Regions from separate parts of the Homo sapiens genome. Here regions 1, 2, 3, 5, 6 and 7 are each linked to region 4. Evidence: fine-mapped expression QTL. A gene starts in region 4. Each other region holds a variant in brackets. All regions are shown on one strand. Distances are between the middles of the regions. Region 1 overlaps OSBPL5 (oxysterol binding protein like 5). Region 2 overlaps OSBPL5 (oxysterol binding protein like 5). Region 3 overlaps OSBPL5 (oxysterol binding protein like 5). Region 4 holds the start of OSBPL5 (oxysterol binding protein like 5). Region 5 overlaps OSBPL5 (oxysterol binding protein like 5). Region 6 overlaps OSBPL5 (oxysterol binding protein like 5). Region 7 has its middle 6.5 kb from the start of MRGPRG-AS1.

Region 1 (4,064 bases), 29 kb before region 4:
GTTGCCTGTGTCCCCAGGAACCAATTCTCCAAGTGCCCCTTGCCTGGGGGAGCGCCAGGTTTTGTTCAGCTGTTGGGCAGACCTAGTGACTAGGGTGGGGGCCACTCTTCCTAGTCCAGAGTGAGCCAGGCCCACTCCCCAGCCTGTGAAGGCTCAAGGTGAGCAGGGCTGGCCCCCCAGCCCCTCCTCCTGCTGCTGGTCCCTAGCCCATCCCAGGTGGGTGCCCTGCCCAGCCGCTCTTCTCAGTCATGACTTTGTGCCTCTTTGGGCCTTTTGGAAAGGAGGGAGGGAGGCACCAAAAGGGAACACTTTGGACTTGGGTTGGGGTGGAGACCCGCTGTCCACCGAAAGAATGTGCTCTGAGCAGAGCCTCCTCTGCCATGTGGCGGGATGGGCCGGGGAGCCCACAGGGGCTGGGCTTCAGCTGCGTGAGTGGGTCTCCTCAGAGGTCTGCTGGGACTTGGGGGTGGGGTGGGGGTGATCCTGTGACCCAGAGAGGGGCTGAGGGTGGGGGAGGGGCAAGTGTGGGTGCCGGGTGCAGGCCCGTGGGCAGGGCCAACCACCAGCCTGGGAGAGCTGACAATCCCACTTGTGGTCCCACTAGGCTGGAGAGGGGACGCGGGAGAAGCTCGGCCCATGGAAGGCCCCCCTTTCTCTGCACCCCAGCCCCCGAGCTGGGCCTTTGCTTCTGCCTGGCCCTCTGCAGGGGGCTCCTCCTTCTTCCTCGGAGACCCAGCCCCTTTGTCCAAGAACGTTTCCCCAGCTGTCAGTCCTCAGGAGCAGCTGACCGCCCCCGTGCGTCTCTTTGGACCTGAAGTGCGCCCTGGCGGTGCTTCGCTTTGGCCTGGGTGGGTTCCCCTGAACTGAGCTGTGCTGGGCTGGGCAGGGCCGTGCTTCCGCCAAGGGGACACTGGCCCAGCTGACTTCCTTGACTACTCAAGCACCTCTGGACCCAGTTGGGCGGGGCACACACAGGGGCCAACTCTGCATCTCTAGAATGAATTCGCTCATGGCTGGAAGGGGGCTTGAGAGACGCTGGAGCTGCTAAGGGCCGGGGAACGTTCTGGAGGGCCAGAGAGTAAGGGGGACAGAGAGCCAGAACCGTGGCAGCCAGGCAGAGGCCACTCCTGAGGCCCTCCTCTGGGCAAGGAGGTGGATGCCCAGGCAGGCAGGGATGGGTGCCCCTTCCAGGTCCTCTCCTGAGACCCCAGCACCCTCCTCCAGGCTAGCCCCAGACTCCCACCCCTGCCTGTGCCCAAAGCTGCAGAATGCCCAGGCCAGATGGACATGTGGGGCTCTCGGGGACTGCAGGTGGCCGTGATGGTGTCGTGCAGCTGCTGCACTCCTGAGACCACAGCTAAGACACCGCCCCGTGGTGGCAGCGCCTGGGGGCCGCCTTGCCTGCGGCAGGGTCCCACCCACACCCAGAGCCACTGCTTGACCCCCCTTCCTGTTAACCACAGGCACCTCCTGGTCCCCTCCTCATGGCTCCCACTTCCTCCTGCCCTGCTGAGTTTCCTGGGCCACCTAGGAGTTGCGGAGGGGACAGAGGCGAGGGCACAGGAAGGGAGTGAGCTCTGACTCTGGGCTGACCACCCCTCCCCAACCCCCACTGCATAGGCTGGAGCAGGCTCTTCCTTCCATTTCTCATGTGGGGCATGAAAGACCCCTTCCACCACTGGGAGACAAGAGGTCCCATGTGGTGCCAGCCCAGAGCAGATGGGGAGGGACAGGTCAGGTTCTGCCTCTGCCTGGCCAGCCCTGTGTCCCTGAGGATGCTTGCCTCTGGACACCTGGGGAGGGGCCATGCTCTCTGACCCCACGCCAAGGCCAGCTGTTTGGCAGCATGGGGCCCAGGCCCAATGGGGGCCCCACCCAGAGCCAGTGCACATGGCCCCCCTGCCTCCGCCAGCTGCCTTCCCAGCAGTAATCCAGCCTCCAAAGTGCTCCTTACCCCCTGCCTCCCAGA[C/T]GCTCGCCTTCAGGCTAGGATAAAGGGATTCTTGTAAAGAAAGGTCACTGGCGCCTCCTCAGGCCACATAGAGCCATCAGCTGGGGCCACACTTAGCTGAACCTTGGCCAGGGGCAGACACTGCCTCAGCTCTGGGAAAGGCTGAAGCTCTGAGAAGGAATCCAGCTGAGTCCTGGACTCATTCCGCATCCTTCCTGTGCCCAATTCCTCCTCTGTCCTCCTGCAGAGGCCTGGGGACCGCAGAGCTGGGGAAAAGGGCCCAGCCATGACTCCAGTGGTTGTGTGGCCTCAGCTGGCCACCTTCATCTCTCAGGCCCTGTTTGTAAATCAGGACTTGCTCTGAGTCAGGGAGATGATGTCCCAGGCCCACAGGAGGCCCTGGGGAAGGCGCCTGCAGAGGTGAGTGTGAGCCCAGACCCAGCCCCCTCCACGCCTATGTGGCTTCCTCACCCACAGCCCAGAGTGACAGGGCTGGGCCGCGCTGCATGGGGGCAGAGAGGAGGCTCTGGCCACTGGGGTGCTCCATCAATTGGCAGGGGCCAGAAAAGCAGGAACTCCGCAGCCAGCCTTCAGCAGTAACATCCGGCACAGATGCTTCTGCCTAAACCAGATAGATTCTCGTTCAAGACTGTGGAGGGGAAATGCTCTAAAATCACAAGGATAAAGGAACATAAGCCCAAATGCTTGGCTCTTCGCACATGGGATGGAGAGGTCAGTGGGTCCCAAGGAAGGACAGCAGCCATCAGTTAAAGGACAGCAGCCATCATGTCAACACCATACGTTTGCATTCCAGAAACTTGCTAAGGTCAATGCAAGTGACCATGAAGATCCTGCTGTGAGGAAACCACGCAGGCCTCCTGAGTCACCCCAGGGAGACCACCACAGCAACAGATGCACTCCCTGAGAGCAGACAGCAGCATAAGAGACCAGGCTGCTGTGTCTGGGTGGACCGAATGCCTAGTGCTAATGTGGGCAGCCTGACCACCCCTGCAGGAGCAGCAGCCTCTTCAGAGAGCCGTGGCATGCACTTCAGCTGTGGCAGCTGGGCCCTGGGGGGCTTGGGACATGCGCTTTCCCAGGACATCTGCTGCACTGATGGACCTTAAAGCCCCCAGGTCCTCCTGGATGTTCTGTCCCATCTGATATGATTCTCGGAATGCTCGCAAGGTGCGGGGAGCAGGGGAGCAGGGGTCATCATCACATTTTAAAGATGCAGTGGGCCGGGTGTACTGCACCTGGGATTACAAGCCTGTAATCCCAACACTTTGGGAGCCTGAGGCGGGTGGATCGCTTGAGCCTAGGAGATCGAGATCAGCCTGGGCAACATAGCGAGACCCTGTCTCTACAAACATAAAAACAGCCGGTTGTGGTGGCACATGCCTGTGGTCCCAGTTACTCAGGAGGCTGAGGTGGGAGGATTGCTTGAGCCTGGGAGGTCGAGGCTGCTATGAGCCATGGTCATGCCACTGCACTCAGCCTGGGTGACAAAGTGACACCCTCATCACACACAAACACACTGGGACCCCAAGAGGGGAAACGGCCCATCTAAGGTCTCGTGGGCCAGGCTGCGCCTGGGATCCCCTCAAAGGAGCACAGCTGAAGCCCCAAATCCCCTTTGCACTTTGGAGATAGCTGTGGAGCTGAGGGGGAGGCCAGGCCTCCCTCTGGGGAGACATTTATCAGAGGCAGCTGTGGAGTGGTTGAACCTCAAGAGGGGCACAGGAAGTGGCCTGCACTGCTGAGGACGCAGCATCGAGCCATGCCTGCGTGTTCTCCGGGCTGCCTCAGCCAAGTCCTGTGCCTGTGGGCCCGGCCAGGCCAGCCCGTCCCCGGCCCTGTCCACCTGTCCTCCTGATGGACACCAGGCCCACTGAAGGCTCAGAGCAGCTACTGGGTCAGCTGGCCTTGGTACCCCGACCCCACACCCCTGTAGTCGATCACTCCACCAGCCCTAAGAAGCCCTGGCATGGGGGCGGGCTGGGCGTGGTCCCTGAGGCAGGCCTGGCCCCACCACCTCCCAGCTAGACCCACCACCTCCCAGCTAGACCCACCCCACCTGTCCCAACTGAAAGGAGACTCCGATTTTCAGATGCTA
Region 2 (4,064 bases), 23 kb before region 4:
ACAGGCATCGTCGTCCCGGCTCCCCTCTGTCCCCCAGCTCACATTACCCAGGACTGGCTGTAGGAGCCTTGTTTCCAAGACCAGAGAGGTCATAAGGTCACCTGCTGCCCACACGTCCCATCCTAGTCCTCCTTGGGGTATGTGGGTACCTGGGGCGGCCCCTCATGTCCAGGAGCTGAGGCTGCCCCTGGGTGTATCAAGGTGAGGTGCCTACCCCACCCCTACCCGCCCATGCAGAGCTGCAGCTGGTGCTCTGGTCAGCCCATGGGTGTGACAGCCCAGGGGGCCCTGGGGCCAGGTGACCACCTCAGAGCCACTCCTTCCCCGATGCCATCTGTCAAGGGTCAGGGGTCACACACTGCAGAGAAGAAGACACAAAGCCTGGCAGGTAGGACCCTGGGGGCACCAACTTGGGTGGGGGTCAGCCCAATGCCTTGTACGAAGAGGCCCCCAAAACAGGAATAAAAACCACCTAACAACAGAAACAACGTCAACCCATAAAGCCTCATTCCAGGCAGTTTCGAGTGCTCTGATGCTGACAGCCACCCAGGCTTCCCCCCGCCCAGCAGACAGTATCGTCATCATGTGTGATGCAGGGAGGGCACAGGAGATGCCACCGAGTCGTGATTGCTCCTGGACAATGCACAGCGTCCTTTGACCAAGCGCCTCCTGCTCACCCGGGAACACACCCTCGGGTCCAGCATCCTCCCTGTGACTCTGCATAGTGGGAAGGACGTGGATTCTAGAAACCCCTCCTGCCCCAGCAGGCAGGTCCAGCCCCGAGGCCTCCTTGGTTCCCCTCAGAACAGAGCTTCCAGAAGGGCCCCCAATCTGTCTCTCAGGAAATGGGGGGGGTCTCAAACAGAAGGACCCCCAATCTGTCTTCCGCTGTGGTGGAGAGCTTGCCAAAGTGTTCAGGAAATGGCATTAATGGGGTCCATTATGGCCCGAGTTGCGCAGAGAGGACAGGGAGGGGCTGGATTTTGCTGACCTCCAAGGGGAACCCTTCTATGAACGGAAAGCTCGCACCTCGCTCAATGCATTGCCAAGTTGCGATTCTCATGCATCCCAGTGCTTTGCCGAGGTGCCTACGCCACCCTTGCATGTGTGTCCTCCCCTGGGCACAGGATGCTAAATGGGGTGACAGTAGGAACACCCACCCCCCACCCGCCTCCCACCCAGTGCAGGGACTGGGAGGACTCTACGCCCTGGAAGGAAAAAAGACTGCAAGAGTACAAATGCGCCATTTTCCCACTTTCTCTCCATGTTACAGTTGCAGTTTCTTTTCTTTCTTTTTATTTTTTTTGAGACGGAGTCTCGCTCTGTTGCCCAGACTGGAGTACAATGGCACGATCTTGGCTCACTGCAACCTCTGTCTCCCGGGTTCAAGCAATTATCCTGCCTCAGCCTCCCGCGTTGCTGGGACTACAGGCACCTGCCACGATGACCGGCTAAAATTTTTTTGTATTTTTTCAGTAGAGACATGGTTTCACCATGTTGGCCAGGCTGGTCTCCAACTCCCGACCTCAAGTGATCTGCCCTCCTCGGCGTCCCAAAGTGCTGGGATTACAGGCGTGAGCCACCGTGCCCGGCCGACAGCTGGTTTCTGAGGCCAAGAGAAGAAGCTGACTCGCCCAGGGCCACACGGCAGGTTGGTGCAGGAGGTGCTGGGCCCTGGTGCCACCCCAAAGTCCACGGGGCTGCCCACAGCTGGGGGAGTGCAATGCCCAGATGGTCCAAGAGAACACTTTCTGGGCTGCTGGTCTGTACAACTGGGAAGCCCCTACCTCTCCACCACGACCCCTCCATGCCCTGCTGCCACAAGGGCCCAGGATCCCTCCCCACTCGCTGCTCCGTGTCCCAGGAGGTCAGATTTCACCCGGATGCTTAGCTCCCCTCCCTTTTTACAGATGAGGAAACTGAGAATGAAACAGGAAAATGAAATGAATGACTCCATCCTACAGGTCTGAGAGTCACCGTCTCGCGGGTGGAGAGCCTGGGTGGTGCGTTTATCAACAGGACCGCTGGTTTCATGTCTCTGTCTCTCCTCATAGACCCACTCAGGTGGAGACCTGTCCCTCTGTCTCCGTGTCCGCGGGGCCCGGCAGGAAGTCGTGTGCAGGGGTGGAGGCTGGAAGACCAGCAGGTCTCCCTTCACCTGGGGATCCCCGAGCCCCATGCAGCCTTGCGGGTAGAAGGGCAGTGACTGCCCACTCCTTGCACACAAGGAAACAGTGAGACCAGAGGAAAAGGACAAAACCAGTCACCCAGGACAGCGGACGGCACACGGGGTGGGGGTGTGTGAGCAGAGACC[C/T]TTGGGACCCAGCATCTGGGTCTGGACGGTCCTGGAGCCTGCAGAGCAGGGCAGAGGAGGCAGGTGCAGAGGGGGGCAGAGGAGGCAGGTGCGGGGGGGGGCAGAGGAGGCAGGTGCGGAGCGGGGCAGAGGAGGCAGGTGCAGAGGGGGGCAGAGGAGGCAGGTGCAGAGCCGGGCAGAGGAGGCAGGTGCAGAGGGGGGCAGAGGAGGCAGGTGCAGAGCCGGGCAGAGGAGGCAGGTGCAGAGCCGGGCAGAGGAGGCAGGTGCAGAGGGGGGCAGAGGAGGCAGGTGCGGGGGGGGCAGAGGAGGCAGGTGCGGAGCGGGGCAGAGGAGGCAGGTACAGCCCAGTGCGTGGACCAGCGACCGGCTCCAGGGGCCCATGGGGGGCTGCACTGTGGGCGAAAACGCACGGACGCGACACACCCAAGAGAAACAAGCACACGCCCCCAGGTGGTCCGCGCACGCACGCTCCCAGCAGCATGGCTCAGGGCCATCAGAGAGCGGACACAGCCAGACATCCACATGGGTGAACGGATAAACATGGATCACATCTGTGCAACGGATGGAAGAACATTCGGCCTTCAGGAGGCAGGAAGCACGGCACTCACACATGCGACGACACGGATGAGCCGCAGAGATGCACCAAGTCAAAGAAGCCAGATACCAAAGGCCACATCTTGTCCGCTTCCACGCCCACGCAGTGTCCAGGACGGGCAGGTCTGGACACGGAACGCAGACTGGTGCTTGCCAGGGCCCGGCCCGGTTCTGTCCCGGTTTCCTGGGGCTCTTTGGGGAAAGAGCATGGGCTTTGGAGTCCACTATGACTGGAGGCTGACCAGATGATCCTGGAGCCCTGGGCCCTTGGTTTGCTTTACTGCAGCCCAGGGGGATCCTCCTAGCTCCTGGCCGTGGTCATAGCTGAGCAGGGCCCGAGGAAGGCACCCGGGCTGCAGTGCACAGCAGATGCTGTGGAATCGACAGCTCTTGGGATCATCCTGTGTGGTGGGAGCTATGGGGTGGACACTGGGTTTGGGTAGCAGGACAGAGGGTCGATGGCCTCAAGTCACACTGAGTCAGGCCTGGCGGGGGCCAGCTGCTCCAGCACCCACTGAGCCCGGCAAACCTCGATGGCTCCTCCCATCCTCAGGGGGTCCCACAGCCCTGAGACCAAACACGGGTTTATTGTTTGTGAGGTGGTTCAAGCAGGCTGCATCAGGACAGAAACACACAAAAAACCCAACGCGGGTGGAAGTGACAGGCAGGTGGGGACAGAACATGCCCCCTCCTCTGCAGCTCACACTCTGGGGGATACAATGAAACCGCTGACAATGAGAGCCCCAGGGAAGTGGGGTGCCATGGTGCCAAGGAGCAGTGTGAGGTGCCCTCGACATGGTAAAGCCCCATGACGGGGAGCTGGAGTGTGCAGAAACGCTGGCAGCGGTGGACTATGGGTGACCGATGCTGTTTCTTTAAAAAACAAAGTGGAATTTCCATAACTCTTCACATTCCCATCAATGCATTGATCATGATCACAGCCAGCAGCAAACCCGCCAGGCTCCGTGGCCGGGACCAGCTGACCTCTGCAGGGGAGTGCGGGCTGGGCCTGGCCTGACCCCGTTCCACCGACACTGAGACAGCAGACACCGGCCCCAAATTCCACCACCTGTGACTGGCTGAGCAGCCACACACGTGGGTGGTCTGACTTTGGGGACACCCCATGTTATGCTGCCTCTTGGGGAACATTTTTATA
Region 3 (4,064 bases), 77 kb before region 4:
ATCAAGATGCAGAAGGCTGTCACCCCCAGGGCTCACACTCTGAGCTCATGTTTGCCCCATGGTGTGTGGCCTCCACAGAGGGGCACTGGAGCCAGGCAGGGCCCCCCGCCCCATCCTCCAGGTGGTTCGGGGGGGTCTTGGGAGTCCTGGCTGTCTGAGGCGGACATGAGGCTCCTCAGAGGAGCTGGGGGGCAGGACCCCCTGCCTCTCCCTCCACCCCAGCCACAGCCCCTCCTCTCCTGGGGCCTTGGGGGTCGAGGTGGGGAGGTGCAGAAGGGAGGTGGTGACCCGAGGCCCCTCGTGTCCCCCTCTCCTGGGTGCTGCCTGGCTGCCCTCCCTTTCATCACCCTTGTCCTCTGGTTGCTGTGAGGGGTGGGCTGCAGTCTCCCTCTGCTGTCACTTGAGGCCTGTGGTCAGGTGCCCCCACCCCGCCTTCAGGGGCACCCTGAGCAGGCCCACTCACTGGCCTTGGTGTCTGAGTACCAGGGGTGGTGGCCACAGTGGAACCGAAGCAAGGGGCAGCGGGCCAGGTGGTCCAGCCAGGGGGGGTCCCCTTCAGTAACTGGCAGCATTGGCCTCAGGGGCTGTGCCAATGCCCCCCAGCAGCCTCTGAGGTGCCTGGAGTGCCTGTGGGCAGTGTCACTCTGTGTCCCCCACTGGCTCATTGGGTGATGGGACGCCAGCCTCCCAGCATTTGCTCCACAGGGCGGGCAGGCTGCCCACAGCTCCCTGTGAACTCTGCACCCTCCTCCCTCCCGGGCCCCTCCACCCAGCCCCACACAGCTCCATGCTGGCCTTGAGTCTTCCTGGGAAGCCCTCCTCTCGTTTCCAGAAGTCCCGCAAGAAGAGAACACGTATGTGTCTGTTTATTTCAAGGTGTGGAACACAGACACATCCCCAGATGGGGGAGGAGGGGAGACAAGGACACGGGTACAAAAACTGGAAACAAAGCCACCCGCTACAGCTCAGACGGCACCGCCACGATGTGGTTTAAGGCTCTGTACGTATATATATGTGTAGAGGCTCACACACGCGCACACGCACACGCAGAGCGGCACTGACACGGGGACTGAGGCCAGACGTGAAGGCTGACTGCAGCTCGCAGCCCACCTAAAATATTGCAATTATGTTTATTAAAAAAGTGTAAAATGGGAAGACTGTGCATCGGTCTGAGTAAAGTGGCGAACTTGAGCCTCCCCGGCCTGGGTGCGGGGCCAGCTAAGCCACACCCCTGCGCCCCCCACACCCCTGCACACACCTGCACCCACAACCACCTCCACCTGCGTGTGCCCCCACCAGAGCGAGCGTCCAGGTGTGGGGGTGGGGTGGTTCCAGGACCTGCCTCTGTGGGGCTCCCATCCAAACAGCACAGCGTGGAATAAAAAACCAAAATGCCTTCCCCAGAGTGGCCCTAACCTGTCCCTGGCACCCACCAGTGGCCCCACCAGGGTGGTCCCGGCAATGTGGACAGGGTCTCCGGAAGGCAGGCCTATGCATCTGTGTGTGGGGGGACTCCTGGGCCACTCGGGGCTCCTCCAAACCTGCCCACTCACTGCTGCTGGGGTGTGACTGTCCAGGGCCCCCACAGGCCCTCCCACCCTAAATCCATCCATCCCCCATGGCAAGTGGAGGCCGGACAGGGGGTGACACGGCAAGATGGCCAGGAGTGCGTCGCACAGCAGAAGCTGCATTTGGCTTTAGCATTAAGGCCAGCGCTGGGCGGAAGGCCCTGCAGAGAGGCCAGTGCCCCTGAGAGGGGCCCAGCACACCTGGGCCCGCAGCGCCTTGTGGCCCCGGGTCCCTCCTGCGCCTGGACTCCCCGTCACAGTGGCTGTGCTTGCCGGGCCTCTCTGCCTCCATGGAGCAGGCTTAAAGTGCTGGGTGCCTGGGAGGGAGGGCTCAGGACCGGCCAGGAGCTCTGCCC[T/C]CAGGGCTCCTATTTGAGGATGTGGTTAATGAACAGCTGACACGCCAGGAACACGCAGAGCAGGAACCAGGATCGGGGGCTCTGCAGGAGGCCTGGGGTCGGTGCCTGTGCTGCCCGTGCCGTGGAGCTCAGCATGGCCGAGAGGTGCCTGCAAGGACAGGCGACAGATCGTGGGGGCTGTGCCAATGCCAGCAAGTCCCCCTCCCACAAGCCAGGACAGTGCCCTGGGTACTTGACCAGGTGCTGGACACAGGGCCGAGGTGGAGATGGGATGGCCCTCCAGGGGCAACAGAGCGGGTGGGGGTGGAAAGCTTGTTAGTGGGAGGGCCCCACAGCACCATGGCTATACTGGGATTCCCTGGGCACATTCAGGGCAGAGGAGGGTCAGGGATTGGGGAGTCAGCCTTTTACATCCTCCCTCCCACCCCTGTGGTTATGGCTGAGTCATGCCTCTGCCACCTTCATATGTTGGAGTCCTAACCCCTTGCACCTTAGATAAGACTGTATTTGGAGATGGGGTCCTTAAAGAGGTATTTATTTAAATGGAGACCATTAGGGTGGGCCCTGGTCCCATGGGACTGGTGTCCTTATATGAAGAAGAGATGAAGACACAGACACAGCGAGAAGCTGGCGTCTGCCAGGCAGGAGAGAGGTCTCGGGATAAACCAGCCCTGTGGCACCGAGATCTTGGACTCCAGCCTCCGGGACCGCGAGGGAGTAGACGCGCTGTCCGAGCCCCTTGCCGGCAGTACTCTGCTGTGGAGGCCCTGGCCCTGAGCTGGAGTACTTTGCCGTGGAGGACCTGGCCTCTGAGGCGGTATCCAGTTTGCTGCAGAAGCTTCTGGCTGAGTCCTGGCCACCTGCCTGACAGCTGACCTGCTTCTGGGGAGCCAGGCCTCCCTGCTTCTCTGCCCACACAGCCTCACCAGGGAGCACCTTCTGGAAATGCTTACACAGGGACAATGACAGTTCCCCAAGGCTCTTGAGCCTCACAGAGCCCGGGCCTGTGCCCTGGCTGCATTTCACCCTGGGGTACTGCTATCAAGCCCACTTTACAGAGGGGAGGCTGAGGTGTGACAGCCAAGGTCCCACAGCCAGTGAGACCCTCAGCCTGGCTCAGAGTCAGGAGCTTTGGACCCGAGAGGGACCCTGTGCTCTGCTCCTCATTGGTGGGATCTGCTGACAGGAAGGGGCCATGTGGCCCTGGTGGCCTGCACCTGCCAGCTCTCGGCCACTCCCATTTGCTCCTTCCCCAGCCATTCCTGAGAAGCCACTGTGCGCAGGTATGGGGCCACCACAGTGAGCCCAGGCTGCCACCTCGCTCTGCACACCTCAAGGTCTCTCCTGGGGCTACCCCAGGCCATGCTGGGCTGGCACCTTCCTCTAGGCTTCAGGACATCTCCAGCTCAGTATCTGCCAGGCATGGCCAACTTGGCTGGTTGATCATCCCGCACCACCTGCCGCTCCCACACCCTCTCTCCTGCCCTCGGCGGTTGTCTTCCTTTCATCACCCTGCAGGTCTTGTGGGTTCCAGCTCCGATGACAACCCCAGCCGCGGCCTCCTGGCCTCCCCACCTCCCGCCCTAGCTCTACCAGGTCTCTCGCACTCTCTGACCCGGAGTCTGGATGGACACCCTGAGTGTGGCCCACCTGTGCAGCTCCTGCTGGGCCTCTCGGATGGAGAGGATGGCCTCGTGCAGGGCCTGCAGCCGCCGCGCCTCCTTCCTGCACCGAGGGCATGGGCTCTCACCGCCTGGGACGGCCCCGAGTGAGACAAAGGAGGGGAGGGGAGGAGTGAGGATGAGCTGGAGGTCCAGTGGGGCTGGCACGTGGGTCACAGGGTCATATCCAGCTCGGGCCTCCACCCCACCTCATGGGAAACCTGCAGGGCCAAGCTGAAGACACGGAGATGAGGGAGGGGTGCTGAGGATGTTTCTGGAGGGAACCCCCAGGCTGGACCAGCCACTAACAGGCCTGGGAGGCAGAAGTGGCCAAGGCAAGGCCCATCCATTACAGAGGCAGGGACAAAGTTGGGGAGACACAGCTCCTGGTGACAGGAAAGGAGCAGAGGGCTGGGGCAGGATGCCACTGGACCTGCCCCTCCCACCGCTGGGGAGCCCCTGGCCTGGGCCCACTCCCT
Region 4 (4,064 bases):
CAGATTCACCTGTCCCTTGAACAATAAATGGGAATGGGGGCGGGGGGCACCTTCTGTCATCTTGGGTAAGTTTTCCACCTGCACACTGTGCCTGTATGTGTGCAAACGTGTGCAGGCTTAACCACAGAATCAGCAGAGAGCACCAGTCCCCAAAACACAGCTGGCAGAGACACACACAGCCCTTCCACCCGCCGGCTTGTCACAGAGTGTTTCTCCCTCCCCCAAGCGTTACATGTCAGATTACTATCAGCGCTCAGAGTGAGGCCAGGATCTCAGGAGAGAAACTGATACCAGGCATTCTCAGCATAGTAAATACAATCCTGGGTAGGGGTTGGGTGGGGGGGGCGGTCTTGCGTTGGTATTCTGTAAAGAGCTGAAAGCAGTCCTTTGAAGAACATGGCCTATTCATGGCCCAATCTGGACCCAGAAAGGAGCCTCCACTGGACATGCAGGATGGCTGCCCGGGGTTCGACATCTGCAGGGCAGCCTCTCTGAGACCAGGCCCAGGACTGCAGGTCAGAGGCTCCTCATCCGGCCTATCTGCTGTGTCACCTTTCTTAAACACAGCCTGGCAAGACAGACACACGCGGTGCCTGCCTCCTGGCACCCCAGGCCAGCCCCACACGCGTGCAGGCAGACAATAGGATCTGCAGTTCTGGAGCCTGAGACCAGAAGGGAGCAGCTGGGCACATGATGCCACCCCAGGTTGCCACAAACCTGCCCGATGCCTGCAAAGCCCCCACTCACCTGGCAGGTTCAAGGAACAGCAAGGCCCTGTGTACCAAGGAGGTGGGATAAAAACGTGCAGAGGGGCCTTACTCCTGGGGTTGGGGAGCAGAGTTTCTGTTCAGTCTGGGATCTGGATCAGCCCTGGTGCAGGCAGACCCAAGAGCATCTATCTAGGATCCCAAAGGCTGGCCCACTTCTCCAGGCTTTGGGAGGCTGTATCAGGTGGGGTGGGACCCTTACAGAAGTCTTCCTGTAAAAGGCACCTTGAAGAGACTGGGGCAGACACACAGAGGGGAGCAAGTTGCGAAACGGCAAGAGAGGAAATCCACCCAGCCGCTTCGGCGGGGCAGACCCGCTCAGCCCAAGGATGAGGGAGGGGCTGGGCTCAGCCCAGGGACGAGGGAGGGGCAGGTAAGCCCACCCTGTGACCCCTCCATACCCCCAGGAGTCACCCCAAACCCTAACTCCAGTTGGCTTCTGACAGGAGGCAGCCCAGCGGTCTGGGTGGGGGTTGGGGGCGGTGCCTGGGAAGCCCAGGACGGGCCTGTTGCCCGGGGGGCTGCAGACTCCAGCCTCCTTCCTGCCTGCCCCACCCTCCTGCACCCCGCTCCCCGGGAGGAATCTTCAAGTGCACAAGACCCTCTTGAGGACTCAGGCACCTCAACAATCCCTAAGGCTCCACATCTTCAGGGGGTCAGTGCCCCAGAGATGGGGGCTGTGGGCAAGGTCCTTCCCTAGCCTGTAATCCAGGCAGCCCCCTGACTCTGCGGACTCAGACACAGCAGTCCTCCCAAGCCCGCAGCTGGGACGCCAGACTCAGATCCCAGACCCCCTGCAGACCCATCAAGACCTGGCTCCTTGGAGCCCGCGTCGGCCGAGCTGGGGGGACAGACCCCCTGATTGGCCAGGGTTTGTGGTGGTCAGACCCAGCCACCTTCCCTGGCGGTCCCGGCTCCTTTAAGCCCCACCAAGTGGGGAGCCGAGCTGGGCGCGCCGCTTCCCACTCGCGGGCCCCACCCGCCCCAACCCGCCAGGCGCCGACCCGTCCTGGCCCGGGGCGCCCCCAGGCTCCCGCGCTCCCCAGCTCCCCAGCGCGCGACCGGCCCCGCGGCGTGGTTCCCCGCACTGGCTACTGCCAGGGTCCGCGGGGCTGCGGCGCGAGCTCCTGGATCCCTTCGGCCGGCCCCCCGCGGCCCTCGGTTCGCTCCGGCCCTGCCCGGCGGGGCCCTCCGGATCCTTCCCAGCCCGCCATCCCCCCGCCGCCCTGCCGCCCCCCGGGCCGCCGCGCTCCTACCTCCTACCGTGCCGCGAGCTCGGTGCTCCGGGCCGGCCGGGCGCGCGGGGGCTCCACTGGCGGCGCGGGCCTGGCTGCAGGAAATGCCAGCAGATGGTCCCCCCGCGCGAGGCGGAGCGAGGGCGCGGCGGAGGGAGGAGGCCCAGGGAGCCCGGAGGCGGGAGGAGGAGGCGCGGCGGCCGCAAAACCCGGGCCGAATCGCCGCGCGGAGCGGGCGCCCAGGGGCTGCCCCCCACCGGCTGCCGCTTCTCCTCATCCCCCAACCCCCCGCGCGCGCTCCGGGGCTCACACCCACCCGGGCGGCCAGAGGTCGGGACACTCCGCTGAAAATGGCCAGGAGGCTTGGCGGGGTGGGCAGCGGTGAGTGGGGTCAGCTTCGTGGGGTTCTCCAACTTAGGGGTGCAGGCCCCCAGCCCACCCTAGCCAGGGTGCGAGGCGCCTCCTCTCCCTTCCTGAACCCAGGAAACTGTCGCCGTTTCTCCCCGTCTCAGGAGCCATCAGAACACAAGAGGAGCCCCAGACATCTGAGCCCGTTGTCCCTGCCCCTTATGTGCTAAGAAGGACCCTCAGTCACACTCTAACTGTACGTCTTTCTCAGGACCCTTTTGACAAGAACCTCCCCTCATGTGCATTTCTTCCTGTGTTTTCTCCTCACCTTCTTCTACCCCCCAGAGACCTTTTTAGACCCCTCAGTTCTCTTGTATATAAAAGACATTCTAATTCCCCTAAACAGCATCCCCTTGGGAGCTGAGAAGTCCTCCCCTGGCCCCTGGCTCCCTGCCTGTAGACCCTAAATTGGGTGTGGGCCCAGGGCTGGCCCCAGGGCGTTTGCATCCCTAGTGTCCAAGCCTGAGGTGCACTGCAGGTCCTTCCTATGGTATGTCCCCAAATGACCAGAAAAACTGGGAGCTGGGCTCGGGCATCCCCAGATGTAGGTAGACCCCAAGAGGGCGTGGAGTCTTTTCCACACAGAACCTTAACAGGGACAGAACTGACCCTCCGCAGAGAGCCCTGGGCTCCTCCCCAGGCAGAACTGCCACTGACACGTGTGTTTCTACGGTTTCACGCTGCAGTTGCATTCGGGAGGCCGCAAGCCTGGCTATCATGGGCGTCTGCAAGACCTCCCAGCAGGGCTGCGGAGGGCGAGCGGCCCAGGAAGGCTCCTTCCAGCACCTGAAGGGGGAACGGCACAGCATGCAGGTGCTCTGCCCACAACAAGCCAGACCCCTTCCCGTCTCAGCCCTGGCCTTGCCCACCCCGTTAGACAAGTTGGTGGGTATCCTCCTGGGGATAGCAGCACCAGCCGCTTGTGTGCGGATCACAGGAACCCACGGCTTACGGAGGCGAGTGGGCTGATCGGACTTGCCCTAAGCTTACCCCCAGGGCTAGCATTGCCATTCCATAGTCACCTTGTGAGGCCTTGGGATGCAGAACTGCTCAGTCAAGATGCTCAGGGCCATGGTGGGACCCTGCTCCGCGTGGCCTGTGGCAGGCGGCCTCTGCCTCTGCAGGAGAGGGTCTGTGCAGCTGGGATCCACATACAACTGCTGGGTCTGCTCTTTGAAGACTCCGCCCAAAGCTGAGGTGCTGCTGCCTGGTAACTTGCTGGTTGCTGGAGCCAATCCAAAGGGAATTAGGGAAGAAAACAAAGCCCCTATCCCTAGGGCGGAGGTCTCAGGGGCGGCAGTAGGGAAGGTTGCCAGTTGCTTGATGCTGGCTGTCCAGGGCCTGGGTTTCATGAAATGACACTGCTGAGGGCAGAGGTCAAAAGTCAAAGAGGCACCTGAGGGTGGGGGAAGGGGCCATAGATGACAGCAGGGTGGGGCTGGGGTGGAGCAGGACGAGGGTTGAGCCTCTCACTGGGTAGTGTCTGACAGCCAGATGGCCATGCAAGAAATGAAGAACACGCCACCTGCCAGGCTCAGTGACAGGTGTCAGTTGTCTGCCCCACTTCCCAGCAGGCTCTGCATTTTTCCAGAAAGCCCCATTTCCAGCCTCTTGCCTGGTTTTGGAGAGGCAGTGAGCCGAAGAGGTTGCCCCC
Region 5 (4,064 bases), 35 kb before region 4:
CCCTCTGAAACTGACCAGCAGCTGGGACCCAGCCCTTCCCCTCCCCACCCCTGACTCTGCAAGTGCTTCTAAGCCTCCGGCCAGGGTGAACGTGACAGCAGAGAATAAAAGGTGTAGGATTTACCTTGCCGGGTGTCGAGTGCCCCTGCCTGCCATAGCACCTTCAGCAAGGCCACCTCTACGCTGGGACTCCGTTTTTCCATCTATTGGATGGGACTTTGGCTGCGACCACACGCCCCTCGAGCCTGGGTGGTGGATCCGCCCAATGCTCTCCCACTCCCCCCAGGGCAGATGAGATGACCATGGCCAGGCAGGGCTGGGGCTCCCACTTCCTCAGCCCCAAAGCAGGCAGTGGGAGGAGAGGGGGCAGAGCTGGGGAGAGGTCCCCCAGGCAGGTGCCTGCCCCTACCTCCTACTCTCAGGGGAACAGGGGAGGAAGGGCTGGGTTTTCTGGGGGACAGCAGTCACAGCTCAGCCTTGGCTGGGGCAGGGGTTGTGCATAGTTAGGTGCCAGGGAGGGGCCTGGAGAGTGGCAGCATTGGCGGGCAGAGGTTCTGAGTCTGTGTGCTGGGTGCTTTATCTACAATTGCACGAAGGCAGGCCTGGTTCCAGCTGTCCCCTCTCAGAGCCCAGGACCCATGTATAGCTGGGAGTAGGTACTAATATTGTCCCATTTTATAGATCAGTCAACTGAGGCCTAGAGAGGTCAAGTAGCTGGCCTGGGGTTACCCTGCCAGGACTGGGGCTCAGGCCACCTGTCCCTGGAGCCTGCACTCCATAACTCCCAAAGCCTGGGCTGACTTTGGGATGACTGCACTCCATAACTCCCAAAGCCTGGGCTGTGGGAACCCCCTCCTCAACCAGATGGGCTTCACCTGGCCCCGCAGGTCAAGCCAAGAAGCCGTATTACCTGGCACTCTACCAAGCTACAAACCGTTTGATCATGAAACCCACACAGTCCCCAGCATGGAAGCTGTGGACCTCAAGGGGCACAGAGGGGTTGGGCCGCCCGGGGTCACCCCACCGGGCCCAAGCTGAGGGCCAGGTTGCCCTGCCCACGGCCGGCACTTACCTGGGCTGAGTGGGTAGAGCTCATTGTCTCCGCTGAGGAGCAAGTTCCGGGTGAGCTTCCGGGGGTCGACTTTCTGAGGGGTGGAGGAAGGTGGACACAGGGAGAAGCGGCGCCGGAGGAAGGCCTCCTCCTTCATGCTGTGGGCGCTCGGGGGCTTCTGGAAGGAAGGAAGGAGGGGCAGCAGGAGGTCACCGCCCCGGAAGGGGCTTCAGAGCCACATGGTGGGGGTGCCCCTGGCTAAGAAGTCCCCCTCTCAGGGGACTTCTGAGGCAGGGTGAGGAGGGCCTGGGCCCTGGGAGCCTGGTGGTGGGTGGTCAGCCAGGACAGCCCAGCTCAGGCGAATGGCTTTGGCTGGTGCCAGCCCTTTCCACGCCGGGCAGTAGGGCTGGACGGAGCCCTGGTCAGAGAGGCTCATCACCACCCTCGGAAGATGTCCTTCTCAGAACCCCCACCCCAGGTTCTGTGAGACCCTGGCTGCAGCCAGGCAGACCCACGTGTAGACACAGGTTTTCCCTCCCGCATTTCCCTCCCACGTGACAGCACTTTGTGGTGGGGAGGGGTCTAGAGCTTCCATGGAGAAGATGCACGGGGGTGAGACCAGGTGGCCGCTGAGCACCAGGGAGTGGCTGGCACGGTGTTGGGCAGTCCGGGAGCCTGGCCTGCCATCCA[T/C]CTAAGGGTCCCAGGAGCGCCTCGCCTCTGGTTAAGCCCGCCTGAAGCTTGGGTGCCCCAACAGTTTCAGTTGCACCCACATGCACCCCAGCAAGAGAGGGAGCTCTGGGCGCTCACAGCCAGGCACACCTGCGTCCACGCCCAGCCCAAGACGTTGCATTCCCAGTGGGAGCTTCCTTGCTGCTTCACAAAAGAGGGAGGCCCCACAGCCAGGCCCTGACACCCACCTGCCTCGCTCTCCCAGCCCCGCCCACTGGCAGACCTGCCTTTCCCCTGTGGGTTCAGAAGCGAGTTTCTTGTTTCCTCCCCTGGAAGGAGAGAGGACAACAGGCGGTCCCCTCTGTCCTGCTCCCCACCAGCCCTACACCTAGTAGTGCTGGGCCAAGCAGAGGGTAACTGATTGCAGTCACGCCTTTGCAGGCACTTGAAGTTGACGGCGCCAGATCCACTGAGGTCTCAGCCCATTTTACAGATGAGAAAATCATGGCTCAGGGAGTGGAAGGCCTCGACCTGTAATCGTGACCTGACAAGGGTTGGCAGAGCATCCCCTCCAGCTTCTCATCTTGTGTCCACTTCCCAAGGGCGAGCTCCTTAAAAACTACTGGTCAATTTTCCTCCTTTCCCAATTTTCTGGGGCTGCTTCCTGCTGCCTCAGGGCAGGCCAGTGGCATCCTGCCAAGCCCGGGACAAAGGCCTCGATTTCTCCCATGGTCCTGGGCTTTGCTGGGGGGGGCCTCAGACACACAGAGACTTTCCTGCTGTGGCTTCAGGAGTGGGCTGGGGGCCCAGGGTGTCTGTGGTCCTGGGGGCTTCTGTCCACCACCCCAGAGCCCCCTCTGTGCCCCCAGTCCTGAAGTCAGAGTGGGGAGGGGCTCCAAGGATGCAGCCAGGCTGGGCCAGCCCCTCCCTCACCTGGCCCCTGGCTCGGCTCATGACCTTGGCCATCTTACACACAGGGCAGCTGGCTTCAGAGAGGCTGGCGTTTTGGCCCAGGTCACAGAGCTAACAATCAGCAATGCCGTCCTTAAGCCAGGTGGAACCGATCCTAAAACCCAGCCGCTGAGTGTCTGCCCACTCAGTGTCTCAGCTTGGCTCAGCCAACCTGCCGCAGGGAAGCAGGCAGATGGGAAGTCCTGCCCCTACTTGTCAATCACAACAAACACGTCCTACTTGCCCAGGTGCAGCTCAGGATGGGAACCAGCAGCTGAGCGGAGGCCGGGCTTACTCAGACAGCTGAGATTTTCTGAGCACCCAGGCTGGGCTGGGCACCAGGCAGCCAAGGTAAGTGAGCAGCGATCCTGCTCTCAGGACCCACAGAGAGCCCCGGAATGTCCCAGGCAGTGTGGTGACAGCGATTCCCAGGTAGGTCTCCCTCACTTGGAACCTCCTGGGGCAGGGAGAGGGGCTCAAAACCTAGCCTCAGCTGCCCTGTCTGGCTGTCTGCTCCAGTTCCACCTGGGCCAAGGTAGAAAGGCCATAGGGGATCTTGGTACCTTTCTGCTCAGATACCCCACATACCTTCTCCCAGCACCAATGACAGCCAGTGGGACTTCTTAGTCTGTGAGTGCCACCATCCACTCATCTATACACCAGTCTCATCTATACACCAGTCTCCCGCTCCCTTGTATCCCTCCATCTATACATACATACATCTCCCTTCCAGGCATCCATCCATCCATCCATCCACCCACCCACCCATTCATCCATCCATCCATCCATCCATCTACTGTCATCCCATCTATCCATCAATCCATCCATCCATCCATCTACCCATTCATCCATCCACCCATTCGTCCATCCATCCATCCATCTACCATCCTCCCATCTATCCATCCATCCACCCATTCATCCATCCATCCATCCATCCACCCACCCATTCATTCATCCATCCATCCATCCATCCACCCATTCATCCATCCATCCACCCATTCATCCATCTGTCTATTCATCCACCCGTCTATTCATCCATCCATCTACTGTCCTCCCATCCATCCATCCACCCACCCACCCATTCATCTATCCATCCATCCATCCATCCATCCATCCATCCATCCTCCCAGGCATCCATCCATCCATCCACCATCTTCCCATCCATCCATCCATCCATCCACCTACCCATTCATTCATCCATCCATCCATCCATCTACCCACTCATCTATCCATCCACCCACCAAACCATCCATCCATCCATCCATCCACCCATCCACCCACCCTCCCTCCCTTTCAGGCATCCATCCATCCTCCTGTCCATCCATCCATCCATCCATCCATCCATCCATCCATCCATCCATCCACCCACCCATCCACCCACCCTCCCTCCCTT
Region 6 (4,064 bases), 46 kb before region 4:
CATCTACACAGTCCCTGTACAGGGTTCCTGACCTGTGGTAAGTAAAGAATGTCACTTTCTGACAGGCCCAGGAGCTCCAAATTTATCTTGGAACCTCAAGAAGATAATAATTCGCCCAACTTATAGGTGTTTAATGGTACAAGTCCATGACTGGGCTCAGCTTTAAAAAAGTCTTATCTGAGATTCTTTCTATGGAACAAAGTTCCATCAAAGACAATTTAAAAGCCTATGTAAAAACTAATTACTCTTGCTGCACTGTATATAAATAATTAGTCCAAGTATAATAAAGCAAACCAGTCCTACCATAATTTGTCCTTAGTTAAAATGGGAAACTGGAGAGAAAAAATTATGTTTCAAAAACTATAGTACAGCTGTTGTTAGATTCTACTCTTCCCTAATGTTTTTCAATTTTTGTTATTTTCTGCACTTTGGATGAAATCCTAATTTTTGTTGGCTATAGGTCTTCAAAATAATGTTTTCAATTTTTTTCCTTCATTTTTTTCCCATTTTTCCTAATTTGGAGTCGCTGAAGACTAAGCTGTGCTTTCTTAAAGCCCTGCAAACTGAAACTAGACAACTTAAACTTCAGAAGAAAATAACAGCAACCTACTTACATACATAAGCCACTTTCTTGCCTGCCTACTGATGTATGGACTTCAGAGTAATGTGGCCTATACCAATTTCCCAGGATTGTTCTTTTGTTTGTTGTTGTTTTTCTGCCTTCCTCCTACTATTTTCTCTTCATAGGACATGAGACTTCACAGCCTTCTGAAAATGAGCTTTCCTAATAACTTGGGACCTACCTGTGTAGGAATAAACCATCCTAGCCATGAGAGATCAGGTGGAACCTGAGACCAGAGACTCGTTTTCTTCTAAAATGCTTTCTCCAAAAGATTTTTAAAAAGGGGGGAAATGTGAAAGGAAAATATCTTGGGCTCCCAAAATCACGAAGCTAAAGGGAAAAGTCAAGCTGGGCACTGCTAGGGGCCAACCTGCCCCCCCATTCTATTCCAAGTCACCCCTCTGCTCACTGAGATAAATGCAGATCTGATTGTCTCCTTTGGAGAGGCTCATCAGAAACTCAAAGGAATGCAACCATTTGTCTCTAATCTACCTATGACCTGGAAGCCCCCTCCCGGCTTTGATTGTCCCGCCTTTCCAGACCGAACCAATGTTCATCTTGCATGTGTTGACTGATGTCTCATATCTCCCTAAAATGTATAAAACCAAACTGTGCTCGGACCACCTTGGGCACAAGTCATCAGAACCTCCTGAGGCTGTGTCACAGGCACGGCCTCAACCTTGGCAAAATAAACTATTTTTTTTTTTTTTTTTTTGAGATGGAGTCTCCCTCTGTCACCCAGGCTGGAGTGCAGTGGTGTGATCTTGGCTCACTGCAAACTCTGCCTCCTGGGTTCAAGGGATTCTCTTGCCTCAGCCTCCTGAGTAGTTGGGATCACGGGCACCCACCACCATGCCCAGCTAATTTTGTATTTTTAGTAGAGACAGGGTTTCGCCATGTTGATCAGGCTGGTCAAACTCCTGACCTCAGGTGATCCACCTGCCTCAGCCTCCCAAAGTGCTGGGATTACAGGTGTGAGCCACTGCACCCGGCCTGGCAAAATAAACTTTCTAAATTAACTGAGACCTGTCTCAGATGTTTGGGGTTCACACTGGCATGTGGTTGGAGCTCAGTAATTGTTATATGGGTGCTTTTATAAGGTCACTGGGTTCTCATAACATTGGGGTGACAGGTGGTTTTTTTTTTTTCTTTAAGACGGACTTTTGCTCTTGTCACCCAGGCTGGAGTGCAATGGCACCATCTTGGATTGCTGCAACTTCCATCTCCCGGGTTCAAGCAATCCTCCTGTCTCAGTCTCCCGAGTAGCTGGGATTACAGGCGCCTGCCACCACGCCTGGCTAATTTTTGTATTTTTTAGTAGAGTCGGGGTTTCACCATGTTGGCCAGGCTGGTCCTGAACTCCTGACCTCAAGTAATCTACCCGCCTTGGCTTGCCAAAGTGCTGGGATTACAGGTGTGAGCCACCACGCCTGGCCTTTGACAGGTGGTATTTTAATGTCACATTTTACTCATGGGAAAACTGAGGCTAGGCATGGGGGCTCTGTGAGTGTAGGCCTGACTC[C/T]GAGCCGGGCTCATCCTGGCCAGACTTCAGGCTGCCCCCAGACAGTAGAAGGGACTGAACTGGGGCCACCTGTACCTGGGCTACAACCTCAAAAGGGGGCCCACTTCAGGTGGGGGCACTGGGGAGATGCGCAAGCTGGCAGGGACTCACCATCTGACTCGGAGGCGGCCCTGAAGATCAGGTAGCTGCTGGGCAGGGGCTGTGTGATGGAGCCCACGCTCTCACCTTTGGGGCCCTGGAGAGAGAGAGATCTGGGTGTCACCCGAGGCAACACCCAGGGCCAGCTGCACAGATAGGTCAGGCAGAACCATGCGGATCCACACCTGGGACCACCTGGACACCCCCAGGGCCACAGGGCCACCAGGTGGGGCCAGGCACCTGGCCAGGTAGACACTTGGCTGCAGAGAGGCGGGTAGGTGGGGGAGCTCTGTCCCCTTTCTTAGCTGGCAGCTCTGCCCTCAGCTTTCCAGCTCTGAGCCTCCTGACTTGGGCTGTCCAGAATCAGCAAAGGCACATCCAGGATGCCCAATGATGTTCGAATCCCAGAGAAACCATGAGTAGCTTTTTGGTGTAAGTATTTCCCATACATGACTGGGGTCATACTAGCATGAAAGAACTCTGATGTTTCTCTGAAATCCAAATGTAACCAGGTGTTCAGGGTTTCTCTGGTTTCCCACCCGTTAGAGCTGGCAGGGCAGCCCCGGGTTAGGAGGGGTGAGGGCTGGGCGCTGTTCCTCGGCCACCCCTGGGGAGCAGCCACTGTTGTCCCTCCTGGACAGCAGCTGGGTGAGGGGCTGGGGTGACCTTGATGCCACCTCCTTGCAGCCTACTGTGTGCTTCACATGGAGCACCAGTGGCCATATCTGATCCCCTGGCCGCATGTGGGGCTCAGAGAAGGTGAGACACCTGCTCAAGGCCCCAAGGGGGCCATTCAGCTGGTTGGCTCCACCCTCCACCAGGGCCCTAGGAATGAGCCCCTTGGCCCTACGGGGCCTCTGTCTTCAACCCCACCCCTCCGCAGCACCTTCACGGCCCAGACGGACTGATCCAGCGGGTGGAAGAGCTTGAAGCAGAAGCCGTCCTTCTTGGAGGGCCGCTCGATGAGCTCGCAGCAGTGCAGCAGCACCGTGCCCACCCACTGGCCCACCTTGGGCGTCTTGTAGATGAGCAGCACCCCCGGCTTCAGCACGCACCACAGCTTGGTCCAGCTCTTCAGGGTGCCGCGGATCTGCAGGGAGGATGCTGGCGTCGATGCCCACCCTCTGGGGCCGCCATCCCTGGGGCATCTTGATGGCTTGGCGGGGAGCCAGGCACAGACCAGGGTGGGCTGCCGAGGGGCCCTTCCCCTCCCTCACTCCCCCACACCAGTTCGGAACTCACCCCTTCCTCACCCTCACTCCCTGGGGTGATGTCCTGTGTCTATCGTGTACCCGAGCAGGGGCCAAGCCACGGCAAGCGGTGCCCCAGGACTCAGAGTGGAACTCAGGGCAGGGTCCTTGTTCAGTTTTTAAAAGGAGCCCATATGTTATGGTGAATGCAAAGAAATACGTGGCAGCAGGGACAGATTTACTTGTGAGGGTCACGTGGGTCAAGTTCAAGGTCAAGGGCCTCAGGGAGGAACCAGCAATGAGTGGTGTGACTTGTAACTGGCAGCTTTGTAGATTCTTTTTTTTTTTTTTTTTGAGACAGAGTCTCTGTTGCCCAGGCTGGAGGTGCAGTGGTGCTATCTTGGCTCGCTGCAAACTCTGCCTCCCAGGTTCAAGCGATTCTCCTGCCTCAGCCGCCCGAGTAGCTGGGATTACAGGCGCCCGCCACCATGCCTGGCTAATTTCTGTATTTTTAGTAGAGACGGGGTTTTGCCATTTTGGACAGGCTGGTCTCAAACTCCTGACCTCAGGTGATCCACCCGCCTTAGCCTCC
Region 7 (4,064 bases), 47 kb after region 4:
TTGAGGTTACCCTGGGCCCACCCAGATAATCTAAAATCATCTATCCATCTCAAGAGCCTTAATTTAATCATATCTACAAAGTCCCTTTTGTCATAGAAGTTCACATTCACAGGTTACATGGGTTAGGACATGCATATGTTTTAAGGGGGCTTTGTTTTTAGCCTACCACGAGCATATATGTTTATAGTTGTGGTATCTCTTGATGGACTGACCCTTTTATGATGGTATAATGTCCTTGTTTGTCTCTAGTAACAATTTTTTTAAATTAAATTTATTTAGTCTGATATTATTATAACCATTTTAGCTCTCTTTTGGTTGTTGTTTACATGGAATATCATTTTATATCTGCCTGTAATCCCAGCACTTTGGGAGGCCAAGGTGGGTGGATCACAAAGTCAAGAGATCAAGACCATCCTGGACAACATGGTGAAAACCATCTCTACTAAAAATACAAAAATTAGCTGGGCATGGTGGCATGTGCCTGTAGTCCCAGCTACTTGGGAGGCTGAGGCAGGAGAATCACCTGAACCCAGGAGGTAGAGGTTGCAGTGAGCTGAGATTGCACCACTGCACTCCAGCCTGGCAACAGAGCAAGACTCCATCTCAAAATAAATAAATAAATAAATAAATAGAAATAAAAATTTATTGAGACAGGCTGGAGTGCAGTGGTGTGATCACAGCTCACTGCAGTCTTGATCTCCTGGGCTCAAAGGATCCTCTGGCCTCAGTCTCCCAAGCAGCTGGGACTATAGGTGTGCACCACTGCATCTGGTGAATTTTTTATTTTTTGTAGAGACAAGGTCTCACTGTGTTGCCAAGGCTGGTCTCAAACTCCTGAGCTCAAGTGATCCTCTTGTGTTGGCTTCCCAAAGTGCTGGGATTACAGGCATAAACCATTGTGACCAGCCTCATTTTATATCTTTTTACATTTAACTTATTTGTGCCTTTCAATCTAAAATGTGTCTCTTGTAGGCAGCATATTGTTGCATCATGAAAAAATGCCTATTCTGGTAATCTGTGCTCTCATATGGAGTGTTTCTATATTACAAGTGGGTGAACATCTTGGTAGGGAGCATTATGCAGCCTACAAGAAAAGATTTAAAAAAATTATCTAAGCTGCTTAACTCAAAAAGCTAGAAAAAAAGAACAAATTTAACTTTCATGATTTAGACAGAAAGATGTAATAAATACAGATAAACAGAAATTAAATAGAAAACAGATGAACACTATAGGAAAAATCAATAAAAGTTGGTTCTATGAAAAGATTACTAAAATTGATAAAGCCCTAATGAGAATTTTCAGGAGAAAATGCAAAGTACCCATAGTAAAAATAAAAAAGAGATATGTGAATTTGATAGACAATAAAAGATTAATAAGGGGATATGGTATACAAGTTTATGCTAACAAATTCAAACTCAGATAAAATGAAGTGGACAAATTCCTTGAAAAAGAAAACTGACACAAGAAGAAAAAGAGAATCTGAATAGCCCTATATTTGTTAAAGAAATTGAAATTGTGTTTTAGAACCTGTTCACAAAAACCCAATTGGCTTCATTGGTGAAATAATATTGGTTTTATCCAAACTCTTACACAGAGTTGAGCAAGAGGAAATAATTGATGCCCAAACCTGAAAAGGACATCACTAGAAAATAAATGAGACACCAACCTCTCTCATGAACACAAATGCAAATACCCATTTCAAAATATTCATAAATCAAATCCACCAATATATAAAAAGGATAATATGTCATGGCCAAGTGGGGATTGTCAGGCCTCTGAGCCCAAGCTAAGCTATCATATCCCCTGTGACCTGCACGTATACATCCAGATGGCCTGAAGCAACTGAAGATCCACAAAAGAAGTGAAAATAGCCAGTTCCTGCCTCAATTGATGACATTCCACCATGGTGATTTGTTCCTACCCCACCCCAACTAATCAAACGACCTTGTGACATTCCTCCCCTGGACAACGAGTCTCATGATCTCCCCACCGAGCACCTTGTGACCCCTGCCCCTGCCCGCAAGAGAAAACCCTCTTTAACTGTAATTTTCCACTACCTACTCAAATCCTATAAAACTGCCCCACTCCTATCTCCCTTTGCTGACTCCTTTTTCAGACTCAGTCCACCTGCACCCAGGTGATTGAAAAGCTTTATTGCTCACACAAAGCCTGTTTGGTGGTCTCTTCACATGGACATGCGTGACAGGGACTATCCAAGGAATACAAAGTTAACATTTGAAAATAAATCAGTGCAATTCCTCCCATTAACAGACTAACAAAGACAAACTG[C/T]ATGGTCGCATTAATAAATGAAGGAACAAAAAGTTGATGGAATTCAATACCTATGTGTGATTAAAGGAAGTCAGAAAATTGGGAATAGATGGGAATCATATCACTATGATGAGGCGCACATACAAAAAGCCTGCAGCTAACATGTTTAATGGCAAAACATTGAGCACTTTCCTGAAAGGTTGGGAATGAGGTGAGGATGTCCACTTTTACTATTTCTATTAACATTGTATGGGAGGTCTTAATGAGTGATATAAAACAAAGAACAAAAAGTGCAAAGACCAGAAAGGAATTAGTAAAATTATTTCTAATTATTATTATTTATAATAACTATTAATCATGTGTTAATTATAATTATTAAAATTTTCCTAATTCTTATATTTATCACTATTAATCATGCATCATTTTAATTATTATTCACAATAATTATTCATTATTCATTATTTACAATAATAATGTCATGCAAATGATTTGATTGTATACGTAGAAACTCCTAAGCAGTTTTCAAAAAGACTATTAGAATAAGTGAATTCAGCAAGTTCACAGGATAGCTGTTAGATAAATATAAAAAAATCAAAGTCAATATACAAAAATAATACAAACTATCAATATACAAACAATATACAAACTATCAATGAATATTGGAAAAAGCAAATAAAAGATTATTTTTACATAGCATTGAGAAACCTTAAATAACTAGCAATACATTTTACCTGAAATGTATAACACACCTACAGTGAAAACTACAGAGACAGAAATGAAAGAAGACCACAATAAACAGAGAAAAACCATGTTCATAAATTGGTAAACTCAATGTTGCCAAGACGTCCGTTCTCCATAAGTTGATCCAGAGTAACTGAATAGAGTCAATGCTATCCCAGTCAAAATCAGTAGACATTTGCACAAACTGTCAAGCTGATTCTGAAATTTATATAGAAATGTAAATCTTGAAGAAGAAATATAAAAGTGTAGGAGTAACACCACTTGATTTCATAACTTAATGTAAAACTGCAGTAATGAAGACAGTGCGGTGTTGATAGAAGGACAGTGAAATAGAGCAGTCAACAGAATAGAGTCCAGAAGTCGACCCACCCTATACAATCAGTTGATTTACAATACAGATGCCAATGCAATCCAATGGGAAAAGGGGTTTTACCAGAACAACTGGATATGCATGGGAAAGAAACAGACAAAATGAACTTTGATCATCATCTCTCACCACCTACATTTAATCTGAGATGAACACAGGAAATGCAAACCTGGGAGTTTACCCATTGGCCCCTGGGTGTCTTTTTTCCATGCTTGATACATCCCTATTCCCATCCCAGGGTCAGCTGCCAACAGCCCCCTCTCAGGATCAACAGCCCCCTCCCAGGATCCACAGCCCCCTCTCAGGATCGACAGCCCCCTCTCAGGATCAACAGCCCCCTCCCAGGGTCCACAGCCCCATCTCAGGATCCACAGCCCCCTCTCAGGATCCTGATCTTTCTGTTCTTCTTGGCAGGTGCCTGTGTTTTATTTTCCTACCCTTCCCCTCTGTGAAGGCTCCTGACTTCTTCCTTTCCTGATCGGACCTTGTTCCACTGCAAATTCTACGCTACGTCTCCCCCCAGACCTCAGATCCTCTCCTGCAGCCTTCCTGCCATTGTCCTCTTTGGAGGCTGCACCAGCTCTTCCCTCTTCCCTGCATTGCTGCTGCTGCAGCAGCTTCCTGTGTGTCCCCTGCTCAGCCTGGACCCCCACCCCCGCTGACCCCCTCTCAGTTGTTAGTTTTATTT

What was found. PIP is the estimated chance that this variant, and not a neighbour inherited with it, causes the effect.
Region 1: its variant is fine-mapped to the expression of OSBPL5 in whole blood (INTERVAL, PIP 0.95).
Region 2: its variant is fine-mapped to the expression of OSBPL5 in whole blood (TOPMed, PIP above 0.99).
Region 3: its variant is fine-mapped to the expression of OSBPL5 in whole blood (TOPMed, PIP 0.93).
Region 5: its variant is fine-mapped to the expression of OSBPL5 in monocytes (Fairfax 2014, PIP 0.93).
Region 6: its variant is fine-mapped to the expression of OSBPL5 in unexposed skin (GTEx, PIP 0.96).
Region 7: its variant is fine-mapped to the expression of OSBPL5 in cerebellar hemisphere (GTEx, PIP 0.91).

The regions. Positions count from the first base shown.
Region 1 is chr11:3,134,335-3,138,398 of GRCh38, forward strand. All of the region lies in intron 1 of OSBPL5 (oxysterol binding protein like 5), which reads right to left. Among named protein-coding and RNA genes, the nearest start is that of OSBPL5, 29 kb to the right of the region's middle. RefSeq lists enhancers at 773-1,380, 1,381-1,989, 1,990-2,597. The variant C/T (reference allele first, on the strand shown) is at 1,970.
Region 2 is chr11:3,140,625-3,144,688 of GRCh38, forward strand. The region is part of intron 1 of OSBPL5 (oxysterol binding protein like 5); the gene reads right to left. Among named protein-coding and RNA genes, the nearest start is that of OSBPL5, 23 kb to the right of the region's middle. The variant C/T (reference allele first, on the strand shown) is at 2,315.
Region 3 is chr11:3,086,272-3,090,335 of GRCh38, forward strand. It overlaps OSBPL5 (oxysterol binding protein like 5), which reads right to left. Exons shown (of 22, transcript NM_020896.4): 21 at 3,575-3,677; 22 at 836-2,072. The coding sequence ends at 1,934. Among named protein-coding and RNA genes, the nearest start is that of CARS1, 31 kb to the left of the region's middle. The variant T/C (reference allele first, on the strand shown) is at 1,925.
Region 4 is chr11:3,163,193-3,167,256 of GRCh38, forward strand. It overlaps OSBPL5 (oxysterol binding protein like 5), which reads right to left and starts at 2,118. Exons shown (of 22, transcript NM_020896.4): 1 at 2,024-2,118. RefSeq lists enhancers at 163-856, 2,600-3,312.
Region 5 is chr11:3,127,941-3,132,004 of GRCh38, forward strand. It overlaps OSBPL5 (oxysterol binding protein like 5), which reads right to left. Exons shown (of 22, transcript NM_020896.4): 2 at 1,073-1,229. The coding sequence starts at 1,208. Among named protein-coding and RNA genes, the nearest start is that of OSBPL5, 35 kb to the right of the region's middle. The variant T/C (reference allele first, on the strand shown) is at 1,742.
Region 6 is chr11:3,117,253-3,121,316 of GRCh38, forward strand. It overlaps OSBPL5 (oxysterol binding protein like 5), which reads right to left. Exons shown (of 22, transcript NM_020896.4): 6 at 3,169-3,372; 7 at 2,295-2,379. Among named protein-coding and RNA genes, the nearest start is that of OSBPL5, 46 kb to the right of the region's middle. RefSeq lists an enhancer at 2,542-2,711. The variant C/T (reference allele first, on the strand shown) is at 2,145.
Region 7 is chr11:3,209,825-3,213,888 of GRCh38, forward strand. No RefSeq gene overlaps it. Among named protein-coding and RNA genes, the nearest start is that of MRGPRG-AS1, 6.5 kb to the right of the region's middle. The variant C/T (reference allele first, on the strand shown) is at 2,290.